Linked DNA regions of Homo sapiens: all the other regions are linked to region 1. Evidence: fine-mapped expression QTL. A gene starts in region 1. Each other region holds a variant in brackets. All regions are shown on one strand. Distances are between the middles of the regions.

What was found. PIP is the estimated chance that this variant, and not a neighbour inherited with it, causes the effect.
Region 2: its variant is the best candidate, but not a certain one, in a credible set for the expression of PTPN18 in cerebellar hemisphere (GTEx, PIP 0.56).
Region 3: its variant is the best candidate, but not a certain one, in a credible set for the expression of PTPN18 in transverse colon (GTEx, PIP 0.87).
Region 4: its variant is the best candidate, but not a certain one, in a credible set for the expression of PTPN18 in whole blood (TOPMed, PIP 0.76).

What each region holds. Positions count from the first base shown.
Region 1 is chr2:130,354,150-130,358,317 of GRCh38, forward strand. It overlaps PTPN18 (protein tyrosine phosphatase non-receptor type 18), which reads left to right and starts at 1,907. Exons shown (of 15, transcript NM_014369.4): 1 at 1,907-2,051. The coding sequence starts at 1,959. RefSeq lists silencers at 1,487-2,156, 2,297-2,346.
Region 2 is chr2:130,307,964-130,312,131 of GRCh38, forward strand. No RefSeq gene overlaps it. Among named protein-coding and RNA genes, the nearest start is that of TRE-TTC1-1, 27 kb to the right of the region's middle. The variant C/T (reference allele first, on the strand shown) is at 1,681.
Region 3 is chr2:130,256,727-130,260,894 of GRCh38, forward strand. No RefSeq gene overlaps it. Among named protein-coding and RNA genes, the nearest start is that of TUBA3E, 60 kb to the left of the region's middle. The variant A/G (reference allele first, on the strand shown) is at 1,867.
Region 4 is chr2:130,322,065-130,326,232 of GRCh38, forward strand. No RefSeq gene overlaps it. Among named protein-coding and RNA genes, the nearest start is that of TRE-TTC1-1, 13 kb to the right of the region's middle. The variant T/G (reference allele first, on the strand shown) is at 1,761.

The DNA.
Region 1 (4,168 bases):
CAGCTGGACGACATGCCCTCCACCAGTCAGACAGACCTCAGCCTATGAGGACAGGCCCTCAACAGGATCCCTGCTGCTGGACAGAGATCCTCTAGCCCATAAAGACTGCCCTGAATAACCATGTGTGCTCAGGGGCTCACATTTTCCCAGAAAATGTCTTTATTTTCTGAAAGCTTACTGATGCTTCTGTATTCTACCTCCCTGGATCTCCATGGCCATCCACAAACCCTCAATGATTATACTGAGAGTCACTATCATGCACTGAGCAGAGCTCTCAATGACTTCCCAGACTCTTCGGACCCTTCAATTACTAACACTCCAAATCCCAATGGCCCCACAATTACTTTCACTTCTTGTCCCAAGTATCCACTGGCCTCCCAATGACTGTCATTAATATCTACTGACACCCCCCCCCCCATGAACATCCAAGGGACCCCGACTGGCTTCCAATGAATTCCCTATCACCACCATCCTAAACAATTACCTCCCTGAGAATGCTCAAAGATGAAACTGATAAATGATGAACATGAATCTCACAGTGACCCCTGCGGACCCCACGATAAATCAAACAGCCCTAGCTGCTGATCCCCACAGAGCCACTTTGATCGCTCCATCACTTCAGCCAAGGTCAGCAAACGACAGCCTGTAGGCCACACACACACACTAGAATAATTCATGACACATGAACATTACATGAAATTCTGATTTCTTTGTCCATAAATGGTTTCTTTGGGACACAGCCACACTATATTGTCTGCTTTCATGCTGCCACAGCTGAGTTAAGCAGCTGGGGCAGCGATAGCAAAGCCAAAACCACTTCCTACCGGGACCTTTAAGAAAGTGTGCCCTTAAATACTCTGATAGCCCCTAGTGAATTAAATTGACCACCTGACATCATGCCCCTGTTGACCCTTCAGAGACTCAGGCACACATCCAGGCCCCAATGCTACCTTTCAACCCCTCAACGACCTCAAACTGGTGTCCACTGACGCCCCTTCCAGTGACACCCCTCTTAATTCTTCCGACCTCGGCGAGAAGGGGGCTAACCTAGGCCTGTCCTTGAAGAGACCCAGGTGCCAGTCCATTCTCTCCAGCCTCCCCTCGGTGATCCCGGAAGCTGGAACGGCGGCTCTCCTCTGACCTCTGCACACTTTCTGAAGATGGGAGTGTCAGGGCAGGCAAAAAAGAGAAGCTCTTCGTTCCCCAGAACCCACTTCCAGTGCCTCAGTTCTGTTTCCCAGCAGGCTTGTGCAGGTCGAGATGCTCACACAGGACTGACCCTGGTGCCCCAGCGCATCCGGGAAAAAGGAACCACAAATTCCTCGGGAAATACACAGAGAAGATCCCGCTGCCACTTGGCCTTTCCCACGGCGTGGCTGCCCCTCCCCGGCCTCCCTTGGGCCCGGCTGGAGCGCACAGCGCGGGACGCCCCCGACCCGGGGTCCTCTGGCACGAGGGGCAGCCTGATCTCGGCGACCGTCTCCACCCAAGGCTGCTGCCCGCCCCAGCTCGGACTCCGCGCGGCCTGGCTCCCAGGGGACGGGCGGGAGGGCCCGGCGAGACCGCTCGGCCGTCCACCCAGAGCCGGCACCCGGAGGTCGGCCCCTGGGCGCGGATCCCGATCTGAGGGCGGGTCCCAAGCGGCAGGGAGCGAACCTGGGACCGTGCCACCCCCCCACCAGTGGGCGCGGCAGCCGAAAAAAAGGGGAAGCGCCGGCGCTGGACTCTGCTCAGGGCAGCCCGCGAGGACCTAGGGCTCCGGCCACAGCGGCCCGAGCGCCCGGGGTGGGGCTACGCGGGCTCAGAACACGGTGGCTGGGGCGCCCTGCCCGCCGCTGCGCGCTTCCATTGGCTGCCGAGGCAAGGGCGGGGACTCAGTCACCGGCCTCCGCCTCCCGCGGCGTCCACACTCGCCGCGCGCGCGGCGGCCGGGCTGGACCTTGCTGGCCCGCGGCGCCATGAGCCGCAGCCTGGACTCGGCGCGGAGCTTCCTGGAGCGGCTGGAAGCGCGGGGCGGCCGGGAGGGGGCAGTCCTCGCCGGCGAGTTCAGCGTGAGTGGCACACGGGGTCCGCGAGCGGCGCGCCCCGGCCCTGGCCCTGCGTACGCCTGTCCTCCGCGCACGGCGGGCTCTGCCTTTCTGTCTCGGTGTCCCCGGTGTCTCCCCGCCTCGGGGGGTCTCTCCGTGTTTCTCTCCCCAGCACTTCTCTGTCGCTCTTGCTGTCTCCGTCTTCACTCTCTGCCCCCCGGCCCCGGAGCGCGACGTCCACGGCCAGGCCGGGACGGACCGTGCACACCCTCGTTCCCGGTGTCCTCGTCGCGCTCCCGGAACAACCTGGCTGCGGGCGGGACAGGTGGGGCGGGCGCCGCAGGGGAGGGCGGGCGGCCCTGCTGCGCTGGACAGCCCCGGCCCCGCCGCTTCTGGCGACCTGACTGTCCCCTGTGACCACAGGAAGGAAGGGGCTGCAGCAGGGCGAAGAGGAACACGGAGGCTGTGGCGTGGTGAGGGTGTGAACGCCGGGCTCGAATCCGCGTCCGGGCCCGAATCCGCTTCCCGTCCCGAATCCGCGTCCCGGCCATCCGCGTGTGGTCCAGGCGGTCTACCTGGCCCCTCTGACCTCGGCTTCTCCCTTGGTGAAATGGGGACATGAATGACCAAACTGGTCTAAGGATTAAATGATGTGGGTGAAAAGCACTTAGTACATATTGGGCGCACACTTCGTAGGGGCGTTCGTCACTGCCTATAAAGATTCTAAACGTGGGCCAGGTGCGGTGGCTCACACCTGTAATCCCAGCACTTTGGGAGGCCGAGGTGGGAGGATCGCTTGAGCTCAGGAGTTCGAGACCAGCCTGGGCAACACAGCGAAACCCCGTCTCTACTAAAAATACAAAAATCAACTGGGCATGGGCGCATGCCTGTAATCCCAGCTACTAGGGAGCAGAGACAGGGGACTCGCTTGAACCTGGGAGGCAGAGGTTGCAGTGAGCTGAGATGGTTCCACTGCACAGCTGAGATGGTGCCACTGCACTCCAGCCTGGGCCACAGAGTGAGATCCCATCTCAAACAAAACAAAACCAAACAAAAAATCTAAACGTTACAATACAGGTAGTGCAAGCCCAGCATTAGGAAGGCTCACGCAGAATGCTAGGCACTGTACATTACAGTTGATGACGTGTTTAAAGTGTAATCGCTTATGTACCAGACATAGAAACATACCATACAAACGCATAAACTGATATATGGTGACATGTATCAAGTTTAGAAATATGACAAATATATAAAAGTATTATAAATGACCGTTTATACAATAAACATTGCATAACTGCATAAAACAATACAACAAATGAATATAACAAAGATTATAATTTATAAAATGACCAAAGTTATTTGATAAATTCATAAGTAGATATAAAATATGTAACAGATGGCCGGGCACGGTGGCTCACGCCTATAATCCCAGCACTTTGGGAGGCCGAGGCGGGCGGATCACGAGGTCAGGAGATCCACACCATCCTGGCTAACACGGTGAAACCCCGTCTCTACTAAACACACAAAAAATTAGCTGGGCGTGGTGGCGGGCGCCTGTAGTCCCAGCTACTCGGGTGGCTGAGGCAGGAGAATGGCGTGAACCCGGGAGGCGGAGCTTGCAGTGAGCCGAGATCGCGCCACTGCAGTCCAGCCTGGGCAACAGAGCGAGACTCCATCTCAAAAAAAAAAAAAAAAAAAGTAACAGATAATTATAAACCTAAGTAATTTACACACATGTAGAAACATTGTATATAAGAAACTAAGAAATGCATAATAAATGTAAAATATATAATTATACAATATAAGAATGTGTGTAACAAATGTAAACATAATACCCATGTGATATATGACATCATGCGACTGGGTGGGTTCTGAACCGTGTACAGTGCGGAGGGCCTCACATGCGGAAGGCTGGGTGGCGAGGGCACCCCTGCTCCCCAAGCCTGCCTCCCGCATGTGCAGGAATCACTGCGCTCTTCTAGGTGTTCCCACTACACAAGGGCATCATGAGGGCTTAAATGACCCAATGGACACAAGTAAAGCACTTAGAATAGTGGCTGGCACACAGTGGTGGCATGGGTGTTACTTATTATCATTGAGATTACGAATACCTGACGATGATGGTAATACACGATTCACTA
Region 2 (4,168 bases), 46 kb before region 1:
AGGGATGATATAAGCAGAGGCTTAAATGTGCTTGCATGATTGGGCTTGCCCTCCTGCGCTCCTATGATACGTTATGAGAACAGAATGCCCTGAGTAGTTGCTGATCCTTTAGCCTGGCTGCAGAATGAATCCACAGGGAACAGACATGAACCAAGCTCTCAGCCTGGAGCCAAACCAGCTTATTGGTCATGTAAAACAGGAGTGACTAGCTGAGTTCAGCCCTAGAGTATTCTTGTCCTAAAATATTCCAAGCTGGAATATTCTCATAGACCTGAAAATATGAGAAGACATAGTTGTTGAAGGCCAGTGGTTTACCACACAGGACTACATTTCAATTGACAACAAATATTTATTTTTTTACCTGCTTTTTCCCCTCTCTAAAGCTATGAACAACTGAAGGGCAAAGACTGTCTCTCATACATATAAGACTACACCTTCTTGGCCGGGCACGGTGGCTCATGCCTGTAATCCCAGAACTTTGGGAGGCTGAGATGGGCGGATCACAAGGTCAGGAGATCGAGACCATCCTGGCTAACATGGTGAAACTCCGTCTCTACCAAAAAAAAAAAAAAAAATTAGCCAGGCGTGGTGGCGGGCGCCTGTAGTCCCAGCTACTCGGGAGGCTGAGGCAGGAGAATGGCGTGAACCCGGGAGGCAGAGCTTGCGGTGAGCCGAGATTGTGCCACTGCACTCCAGCCTGGGCGACAGAGCAAGACTCCGTCTCCAAAAAAAAAAAAAAAAAAGACTACACCCCCCCACATCCAACATGCAATTTGGCATCTTAGAGAGTGCCCTATGTGTGTTTAAAGAAAGAAGGGAGGGAGAAGGAAAGAGAAGGAGGAGGGTAGAAGAGAAGAAGGCAAGGGGAAGGAAAAGAGAAAGGAAAGAAAGAAGGAAAGAATGATGATATTCTTAGTAAAGTGCCCAAGCCTTTGTTAAAATAGCCTTTCATTGGTACTTGAATTTAATGATTAAACCCCATGCCAACAAAACTGTCAGAAAAGATACAGAAAGGAAGAAATAAAGTGAAAAGTTACCAAAATGACCATAAATCAACCTAAATTCATTCCAGAAAGACTGAAACTAGGCTACTTCACCATCTTCAAGGCTGTCCAGGTCCTACAAAAATGAAGTTACTTCTAGCAGTGGTTGGACATCAATTGACACAATGACATCTACTGAAGAAGACGAAGAGGGTAATCAGAGAAGAGTGGGCAAGAGCCGTGAGGCAGAGATTCTTCTGGGGCCACAGCAGTAACCATCGCGGACATGATCTCCTGCTTCCCTTGCCTATCCTGCCCAGGTGGGGATGATTGACATTGAGTGCCATACGTAAAAGTTGAGTGGGCATCAGTGAGAGGGAATTTATGACAAACAGCAGGTGTGTTAAAGTCAGGATTTCATACTTGCTGATGATTTGGCATGAACTATCTTCCTTAAGCCTTCTCGTTTGTAGAAATAATTTTTACTTTTATTTTCATCTTTCCTGACACCTTAGGAAAGACAGCACCAAGTTCAAATTTCTGATCCAAAGGTTTTTCAGTTTTCAAGACTGTACTTTATCCAGACAAGGAAGATAAAAAATTATTCAAACTTTCCTTAGAGGTTCCCTAATAGCCTCCCCAATGGCTGCCCAGTCTCCCACCCAAATACCCTTCCTAGGTAGGGAGAATAATGTGT[C/T]GGCAGCTGTGGAGACCCCTGCCTTCTGCTGTTCTGGACAGGGGCTGCTTGCCCTTGGTATACCCAGCAGGTCCAGGCAGCAATGAATAAGAACAGGGATTTCAGAGAGTGTTCTATTTGGGTTTGAATTCCAGTATTGCCATTTACTTGATGATTGACCTTGGCAGGTTATGTACCCTGGGCTTCAGTGTCCTTACCAGTAAGTATAAAAGCACCTGCTCCTTTGGTGCCCATTTCCCATTCCTCTTCTTCTGGTGCTGGCACCCTGACCCTCTTCAATGTGACATGCTGCCTCTACACCTTTGGCCTTCTGCACATGCTGTCCCTTTGCCTTTCTTATACTCCCTTTTCTAGATACTCCAAACCTTCCCATCCCACACTCCTCTCACTGGCTTCCTCTGCAGCAGACTCCTATTCAGTGCCAGGATCCTGCCTCCTTCAGGAAGCCTCCTCTCCTCCACTGGACCATACGTTCTGTGAGGAAGGAACAACATCAGTCCTGGGCAACAGTGCCCAGCATAGGGCCCTGAAGCATTGCAGATCCATATTCATTGTTTCTGAAAGAATAAGAAAGGAACAATTCTGGAATATGACTGTAGGTTTTGTGTGTGTGTGTGTGTGTGTGTGTGTGTGTGTGCGCCTGTGCGTGCATGTGCATGCAGATATTTGGATTCCATGGCGATCCTCCCCAAGATTCTGGCAATAGCACAGATGTGGATACCCTCTTCTCAGCTTGGCCTGGCTTCTCATCTCCTTCCCGCTGCCTTTCTTCACTAACAATCTATTCCAGGTAGCCTTCTTCTCTAGCATGCTCCTGTTTCTCAGCTGGGGCTCCTGCTCTCCATTCCCTCTGCTTTGTTACGCTAGTGAGTTGTGATGTACACATTGGAAACTTCAGGTACTCTCTTCAACCCTATTCTAAAAATCCTAGAGCTGGAGCTCATCAAATAACAGCAACAGCTAACACTTAATTGGTCTCTGGCTATGTTCCAGGCACTTTCAAATGTGTATTCCCTCCTTGAATCTCCACACAACTCTCCATGTTAGGTAGTATTATTACCTTTATATCCCCAGTTAATAGACTATGACTCTAAAGGCCAGAGAGTTTAAGCATCTTGCCAAAGTTCATAAAGCTAGCAGGTGGTGCGGCTAGGGTTCCACATGGTTTATCAATCGTCTGTACTATCTTTTGTGGTTTATCAATGGTCTGTACTATCTTTTGGCCAAAAGAGTGGACACCTTGCCCCCTTCTTCCACCATTCAGTCTCTCATCTTGTTCCTTGCAGTTTTCAAAGAGCTTAGGTTTGATACTCATACCCTCAATGCCTTTTCTGGCTCTATTTTCTTCCAGCTCTGTTCTGCTGCTAGATACTTGACAATGTCTCTCCAGTGTCTGACCTTGACCTGTGGTTCAGACTAGGGGAATCCCAACCTGGTTTTTGGCTTCTGTTTAGAACTTGTCTGGCCTGGTGTAACCCTGGCAGTCATTCAACTCAAGGTCATGGCTATTCTCTGTCACAGTTCCTCCTTTCTGACCCTTTGGATACCAAATCCACTTGCTTACACTTATTATACCTCCATCCCACCCATTAGAATTGGGAATATCTGTCTATGGCTTCTATGCCCCTCACTCCCTCTGGATTCCCTGTATAGGCACCCTTTTCCCTGCCAAGTGTCCTAAGCAAACATCACAGACTCTGAGTCTTATTATGAAAAGAGCAATTATTATAGAAATAAGAGATTACCATCTGCCATGTACTGAGCAAAGGGGTTTACATATATTAACTCATCTGACCCTCCCATTGGCATTCTGTGAGATGGAGGTAACACAATTCTGTATTAAAGGTGAGGGGGCTGAGATTCAGAGAAGTAAAAGAATGGCATGTTTTAGGCTGGGCACGGTGGTTCACACCTGTAATCCCAGCACTTTGGGAGGCTGAGGTGGGCAGATCACGAGGTCAGGAGATCAAGACCATCCTGGCCAACATGGTGAAACCCCATCTCTACTAAAAACACAAAAATTAGCTGGGCATGGTGGCACCTGCCTGTAATCCCAACTACTCGGGAGGCTGAGGCGGGAGAATCACTTGAACCAGGGAGTTGGAAGTTGCAGTGAGCTGTGATCGTGCCACTGCACTAAAGCCTGGTGACAGAGCAAGACTGCATCTCAAAAAAAAAAAAAAGCATGTTTTATGTGGCAGAGCCTGGTTTAAACTCCCAACCCGTAAGACTCCCAAGTCTGTGCTCTATGCTACCATCATCTGAACCCAAACAGACCCTTGCACTGGGGTTGGGCTCCCCTTCCTCTCCTGACCTTTCCTGCTGGTTCCTCAACTCCAACCAGCATCATCTTTCCTCTGATGTCATCTTCTGTTCTTTGACCACACCCTTCCATCCTAAAGGACATGGTCTGAGGCTTCTTCCAAATTCTACTGCTAAAGTGTCTCTTATTTCTGTGAAGGGACAAACTAGAAATGACAGAGTAACA
Region 3 (4,168 bases), 97 kb before region 1:
ATTTTGAGGGACAATTTTTTTAAAGTACATTCTGTCTGGTCAGTCACAACTCAATTCAAAACCCCATTCTGCCATCTGCTCACTATGTGACCCTGGGCACATTGATGAACTCCTAATCAGGCCTCAGTTTCCACACATGTAAAATTGTCATAGCAACCTTACTAGATTTTTTAAGGAAAATAAAAATAACATTATTGATAAATAAATGTAAACTATTTAGGAGAAACTTAGTTCAATTATGAAGCATTCGATGTGTTATGCTTTCCTCAAAGCTTCATGTTGTTCATGGTTTGCCCCTGCCTTGTGAAAGCTCCCTACTGAAGTCTCAGCCCTCTGTTCTAAACTGCTCTCTTCTCCACCCTAAAAACAACAAGAATTTTAAACCTCTGTTAAATCTCTAAAAATTCTAAGATTAATTCCTATTAAAATGGTAACAGCTATTAAAATTTAATACAGGCTAAGGATCCCCTTACCTTGGGACCAGAAGTATTGTGGATTTGGGTTTTTTTTTTTTAAGACTTTGAAATATTTGCATATACATAATCAGATATGTTGGGGATGTAATCCAAGTCTAAACAGAAAGTTCATTTATGTTTTGTATACACCTTATACAAATAGCCTAAAACTAATTAGATAAAATATTTTAAATAATTTTACGCATAAAAACAAATCTGACTGCATTTTGACTGTGACCCATCACCTAAGGTCAGGTGTGGAATTTTCCACTTATGGCATCATGTCAGCACTCAAAAAGTTTCAGATGTTGGAGCATTTCAGATTTCAGTATTTTGGATTAAGATGCTCAATCTGTATGTTACCCTGCCTAGGATTTTTCTGTATCTAATGGTAGAATCTAATGACTTTGAAAAGACAAGGCAATCATTTCCCCTTTGTCAGTGAAGAATATATTTTTTTCTCTCTGAAGTTGAAATCACACTAGGTAAACATTTACCCGTCCATGTGTAACTCTAACATGGCCACATTATTGAGCACTTACCTGCCTAGAGTCAGCTATTGAATAAGTATATTAAGTCTGCAGAAGGCCGAAATACGCACATTTAGATGGACTAGGGCTACAGGGCAATGGGCTTTGGACATTTTGCTTTATAAAGGTAACAGATTTGACTCTGCAATTTCATCACTTTCATTATTTCCCTATTGTCTGAAAATATCCATTTCTGCCGATTCCTTTTACTTACATCAGCAACACTGCAATAATACAACTCAGAGAACCTTTCAACATATTCCTTTTCTTGTATAAGGAGTGGAATCTTTCAAAACAAAATAATAACTTTAAATTGTAGAAGTTTATGTACTTAACTTCAGATGTTTTCAATTATAATGACTAGTGATATTCATAGTAGAAGCACATAGTTTAAAGGGCTAAGAATTGATTTGAAATATGTCAGAATTAGAAAGAAAGGTTAATTTGTTTTGAACCAACGTGTCGTGGTTTAGGTAAGTGTTTCTCAACCTTGGCACTCTTGATGTTGGGGCTGAATGATTCTGTCGCTAGGCAGCTATCCAGTGCATTGTAGAATTGTGGCAGCATCTCCAGCCTCCACTCACTACACAGCAGTCCACCAGTAGCAGCACCCTTTTGTGACCACCAAAAATGTCTCTAACTATTGTCAAATGGTACGTGAGAGTGAAATTACTCGTTGGTAACCACTCATTTTGTTTTGGCATCCTTACAGTTGACATGTATCATTTTCTTGCTCAGTATTAGAAGCTTCTTGTACTTCAGGAACATGTTACATACTTCTTGTCAAGTTTCCATTTGTTAAGTGTTTCCACAGCAACACTTAACAGGCAGCTGCCCTTGGCAGTATTCCTTCACTGAGAAGAATAAATGGGAGCTGCCCC[A/G]GCTCCATCTTACTCTTATTCTCCTTTTCTTCTACTCATGCTAACTTCTTTCGACTACTTGCTCACCCTTCATGGGATGGTTCCTATTTATTCATGGATTCCATTGCCTAATAGCTTCTGCTTCAGTCCTTCCTATTCTGTGCCATTATTCTTAACTTTGCTATTTATCTCACTAAATTCCCCACTAGATAGTGCATTTGTCTTTACTGAAGACACAGAAAATTCTTACCAGGCCACTCCACAGACTTCAGGTCTGCCTTTAGAGGAAGGTCCTTCAGAACAGAATCCTGTTTGACTGGCTAAAGTCATTTTTAAGAAAACTGTTGTCATTTCTTTTAATATGAACCCAGGTCAAGGAAGGCATGCTGAGTTGTGGAGGTATAGGATGTTATTCCAGGCAGGCACTTTCCCTCCGTTATGTGATACAGATGAGATTTGAGCATTACCTTTTTGTCACTTGAAATTATATCTTACAAAAATACAAACAGATAGAGCATATACAGATACACATTAGAAAGGGTGAGGGGAACAGATACAGAGGAAGGAGGAAGAGAGACAGAGAGGGAGGGAGGGGGAGAGAAAGTGGCTTTGTGTGGAGCCAAGATGGTAACATGCCGAACTGAGAGGCATGAGAGAGAGAGACAGAAAGACACAGAGACAGAGAGAAACAAACAGACACAGACAAAGAAGGGGTTCCAGGAAAACAACAGGGCACTAAGACCTCAGAACTTTCATGCTACAGAGAAAAGGGGTCAATGCTGGCTCATTATCCAAATCCTGATTTCAAAGCAAAATACAATTAAAGTGGATTCAGAGAACTCGTGACCAGAAACATGAAGGGACCGTCTAACACCTTAGTAAGCCAAGACCACCACAATCCTGGAACATAAACACAAAGAACTCAATATATGCTTGTTGCAAGAAGAAAGTTAAAAAAAAATTGTGCCAAGGCCTGTGCTGAGAAAGAAGGTGGACACACCACCATCCTCAGGGAGCTACTTCTGAACACTCCTGGCAGAGTGAAACAGTCACTGTCAGTGATCAGATTAAAAATTACTTCATTATAATAACTGGACTTGTACCCTCCTCAACCCTCCTCCTTTGTGAATGCAATCCAGTTCCTGGACTTGCCTCACTGCCTACAAAGAAAACAAAAACAACAACCTCCTCCAAGTCCCCCACTGGGTACAACGTGCGCTCTGCAGCTTGGCTTTCTGAAATCACACAGGAAGGCACCTGCATGCATGTTTTTCTAGAGACAGCCCACGGCTTTCCTTAGGTTTCCCAAAGGATCTATGACCTGACCCCAAAGGTTCAGAATCACTACTTTTTAAAACACCCATTTGTGAGTATGTGCGGGAATGTTGTTGCTTCTCTTTTCTTCTTTGTATGTTGGCAATTGTCAGTGATGAAAAAAAAGAAATGGTTTCTAAGGAAAAAAAAATGATCCATATTCTCTAACAAGGAGTGTTAAAGGAGACCCCCCCAGATATTAGGACAGCAATGAGGGACCATGTGTGAAGTTGACAGTTGGATGCTGTCCACGAGCGTGGGGCCAACACTGACAATCACAGCAGGGAGGCTTCCCCAGGAGAACTCCCTTCATCTCTAACTCCTCCCATATATGCAAACTCCCAATGACAGCTGCCCAGAATCCTGCTTCAAGGCTATAGTGGATGCCACGGTTGACCCCTTCCTTTCCAGCCCTGACCACTGTGCTGTCACCTTACAATGTGGGGCATGGGGGTGGTATGGAGCAAATCTGACCTCAGCTCCAGGTGTGGACCCTGATGGGTTCAATTTGTCTCCCCTGCCCATAGTCACTGGTTCAAATGATCCAGGCTTAACCTGATGAAAAGTTGGCAAAGTCCTGGACAAAGGGATTGGTTTAGCTTTGAACATGGGGCTCAGTTTGGGCCAATGCGACTTAAGGGGAGGGGTATGGGAAAGGGGGTTTTACAATGGGAAACAGGAAGTGTTTGGCATGTAAGACTGAACCTGCTGCAGCCATATGCCCATGCTCCAGGAAGCCAGGCTCAGGATGAAGTCAACACCAAGGCAAGCAGAATCACAAAATTCAAAGAAACTGAGGTCTCAGTGATACTGTGGAACCACTGGTCGAACTGACCCTAAACCTGCTCTGCTTCTCATCCTTTAAGTTATCTGAACCCAGAAATGTCCTCCACTGTTTACCCAGGTGGAAGCGGTTTCCTATCATTCACAAAGGAGTCACAAACAATATGAAGTCCTAACTAAAACAGAAAGGATGTTCGTGTTAAAACACAAAGTTGAGGCTGGGCAT
Region 4 (4,168 bases), 32 kb before region 1:
TGGGAGGCTGAGGCAAGAGGATTGCTTGAACCTGGGAGGCGGAGGTTACAGTGAGCCAAGATCGCGCCACTGCACTCTAGCCTGGGTGACAGGGCGAGACTCTCTTTCTCAAAAAAAAAAAAAAAAGTATCTGTATAAATAGGCATTTGTGTTTTCTTCTGGTAGTTTTCTCATTTTGTATATTTAAAATTTTTAATCTATATTCCACCAGGAACCTATTTTTGTGACATAAAAATCAGCTAGTTTTCTCCAAACAGCAGGCATTCCATTTATGAATAATTCATCTTTTTCTACTAATATGAAATGTCACCATTATCAAGTTCTAAATTATTTCATATATATGGGTGTTTCTGGATTTTCTAGTCTGTTCCATTCATTTATGTCTTTCAGCTGTTAGTAAATGACTTATAGAAATTAATGGCACATTTTGATATCGAGGAAGGCAAGTCATTTTTCGTTGCATTACAAAAAAATTTTAATGTCATCATAACAGTAAAAGACAGCAAGTGTAATTTTTAAACGTTAAAACTTTGGTGTTTTTATTTGGTTTAGGCAAAATTGATAAATACAGAAAGAGCTCACATCTTGAGAAAATTCTTTCTATTCAAGAACATGAACCATCTTCCCACTTTCCTTCTAAGGTTCCTCAGTAAAGTATATATTTACATAGGGGTACGTGGATAGAAAATGGATATTGGATTTTATCTAAAGAATTTTTAGCCCAGAAGTTGATACATTATGGGAACTATTTCTCTCATTATACACTTTTCTATAATGTGAATAACATGTTTAAAAGTGTATACCTTAAAAATATTATATAGACAATTCTGTGAGTTAAATCACTTTAAAATTGTCTCTAAAGTGCACTATAGGGAGATTATGGGTGCACTGGAAACCAGCTAAAGTGTTGTTTTCATTTTGCTGCTCATAGAGAGACCCAGGCCTTGACTCCTCTGAGGCTTCCACATCCCAGGTGCTGCGGGCCCTGCTTAGCTGTATTCCTAGGTATTTTATGTTCTGTGTGTGTGGCTATTATGAATGTGATTGTGTTCTAGATTTGGCACTCAGCTTGAACACTATTGGTGTATAGAAATGCTTATTATTTTTGTAAATTGATTTTATATCCAAAAACCCTGCTGAAGTTGTTTATCATACCTAGGAGCTTTTGGGGAGATACTATGGAGTTTTCTAGGTATAAAATCATATCATCTGCAAACAGAGATAAATTTGACTTCATCTCTTCTTATTTTAGGATACCTTTTGTTCCTTTCTCTTGCCTGATTGCTCTGGCTAGGACTTCCGGTAGTATATTGAATAGGAGTGGTGAGAATGGGCATCCTTGTCTTGCTCCAGTTCTCAAGGGGAATGCTTCCAGCTTTTGCCTGTTCAGTATGATGTTGACTGTGGGTTTGTCATAGATTGCTGTTATGATTTTGAGTTATGTTCCTTTAATGCCAGTTTGTTGGCGGTTTTTAACATGAAGGGATGCTGAATTTTATCAAAATCCTTTTCTACCTCTATTGAGATGATCATGTGGTTTTTATTTTTTGTTCTGTTTAGATGGATGAATTACATTTATTGATTTGCATATATTGAACCAAACTTGTATCCCAGGGATAAAGCCTACTTTATCATGGTGAATGAGCTTTCTGATGCGTTGCTGGATTCAGTTGGCTAGTATTTTGTTGAGGATGTTTGCATCTATGTTTATCAAGGATATTGGCCTGAACTTTTCTTTTTTATTGTGTCTCTGCCAGGTT[T/G]GGGCATCAAGATGGCACTGGTCTCATAGAGTGAGTTAGGGAGGAGCCCCTTCTCCTCAATTTTTGGAATAGTTTCAGTAGGAATGGTACCAGCTCTTCCTTATATGTTTGGTAGAATTCAATTGTGAATCAATCTGGTCCTGGGCTTTTGGTAGGCTTTTTATTATTGATCCCATTTAAGAATTCATTATTAGCATGTTTAGGGTTTGAGTTTCTTCCTGGTTCTCTCTTGGGGAGTTGTATATTTCCAGGAATTTACCCATTTGTTCTAGGTTTTCTACTTTGTGTGCAAAGAGGTGTTCACAATAGTCTCTGATGGATTTCTGTATTTCCTTGGGGTTGGTGGTAATGTCCCCTTTGTCATTTCTTACTGTGTTTATTTGGATATTCACAAACCACTGTTCATTGAAATAAAAGAGGATACAAACAAATGGAAGAACATTCCATGCTCTGGGTAGGAAGAATCAATATGGTGAAAATGGACATACTGCCCAAGGTAATTTATAGATTCAATACCATCCCCATCAAGCTACCAATGACTTTCTTCACAGAATTGATAAAAACTACTTTAAAGTTCACAAATTTCATATAAGCATTCAGTCACTTCATATTTTTGGCTAAGGTTGATGGTGGTTTTTGATAACTGTGGGAGTTTTTTTTCAAAATAATACAAAGATTCCTTTTTTTCTTCTTGGGAATTCTGTTTAACAGCCAGTTTCTCACATTTCCTCTCTAATTTGTCTCCCTTCTTCTACCATTTTATCCCACTTCTGCCTCTTTCATCAACTGGTTTATGATTTCTAAGAGAGTTACACAGAAGTAACAAGCATCTCTGGTTTAAGAACAACAGGTTGTCAACATGCTCCAGGACAACAGTAGCAAAATATATGAGGTTAGAGTCTAAAATCATTTCTGCAGAGCAGAAAAGATGAGGAAGCATAAAAGATAAGCACATTTAAGTAAAATTGTTCACTTATATATAATTCTTCAGTAATAAAGGGCAACCACAGAGACGTTCTCACTATACATACATCTCCCTCAGAATCCATATAATCCATGCTTTTTTGCATTATAACCATTTTTATTTAAATATAGACCCTACTCAGTAGACACCCATCTACTGAAACATAAAACCATCTCCTTTTAATTTGCTCATTTGGTAGATTCACTGGACAATATATATCTAAGGAGAGAAATATAATATCTGGAATATATATATGTATATATTGGACACATATATAGAGAGAGAGAACATAAGATCTGGAAAATATTAAAGGTTTTTTCATTTCTTTATAACATGAAATACTCCATTTCATTATTTTTAACTCCAAAAAAGTCTGCATCTGATTGCTAATGGTATATCAATTCACCTTAAAAATTCCATTTAGGTGTTCAGTAAACAAAACCCAGAAATACTACTTTCTTCCTAAAGGAAAGCAAAAAAACATGATCATCCACTTTAATTACATGGTCTCTATCACATAATTTATGGAACCTGTGGGTTTTAACTGTGCAAATTTGGTGTAAAAAAAAATTGACATGGATGAGATTACTAACTAGAGGTCTTTAAGATGAGTTTGATTTAACTGCTGCTGCTTCTGCTTCACTCACTATAAGTCCATCAACATCCTCTTCTAGTCTTACAGTTAAGTCTGAAGGCTTTCAGCATTAAGAAATATATATACAGGGCCAGGCGTGGTGGCTCACACCTGTAATCCCAGCACTTTGGGAGGCTGAGGTGGGCGGATCATGAGGTCAGGAGTTCAAGACCAGCTTGGCCAACATGGTGAAACCCCCATCCTTACTAAAAATACAAAATTAGCCGGGTGTGGTGGTGCACACCAAAAATCCCAGCTACTCAGGAGGCTGAGGCAGGAGAATCACTTGAACCTGGGAAGCAGAGGTTGCAGTGAGCCAAGATTGCACCATTGCACTCCAGCCTGGGTGAGAGAGCAAGACTCCATCTCAAAAAAAAAAAAAAAAAAAGAGAAAAGAAATACATATACAAAAGACTCGTGTAACTCTGTGTCCCATAAGGTTGAATTCTAAGAGACTTTCATTAGTAATAAATGTATGCAATATATATGATTTTGAACCTAAATGACACTAACTGGTTGAGCAAGGATAAAGTGCTTCTTCTATGAAACCAATCCAGAAGACCTTAGAATTTCACATGCTAGAGATCTTAAATTTTCACTCATTTGACAGATCCTTCTGTGTGACAGATACTCTTATCCTGGGTCACAATCTTGCCTTATATTTTTTTTCTTTTTCTTAAAAAGAAGTCAGACTTTCCCCTACAGGAAGGCATTCCACCAGTCTTTTTGAGATGGAGTCTCACTCTGTCCCCCAGGCTGGAGTGCAGAATGCGATGGCACGAACACAGCTCACTGCAACCTCCTCCTCCC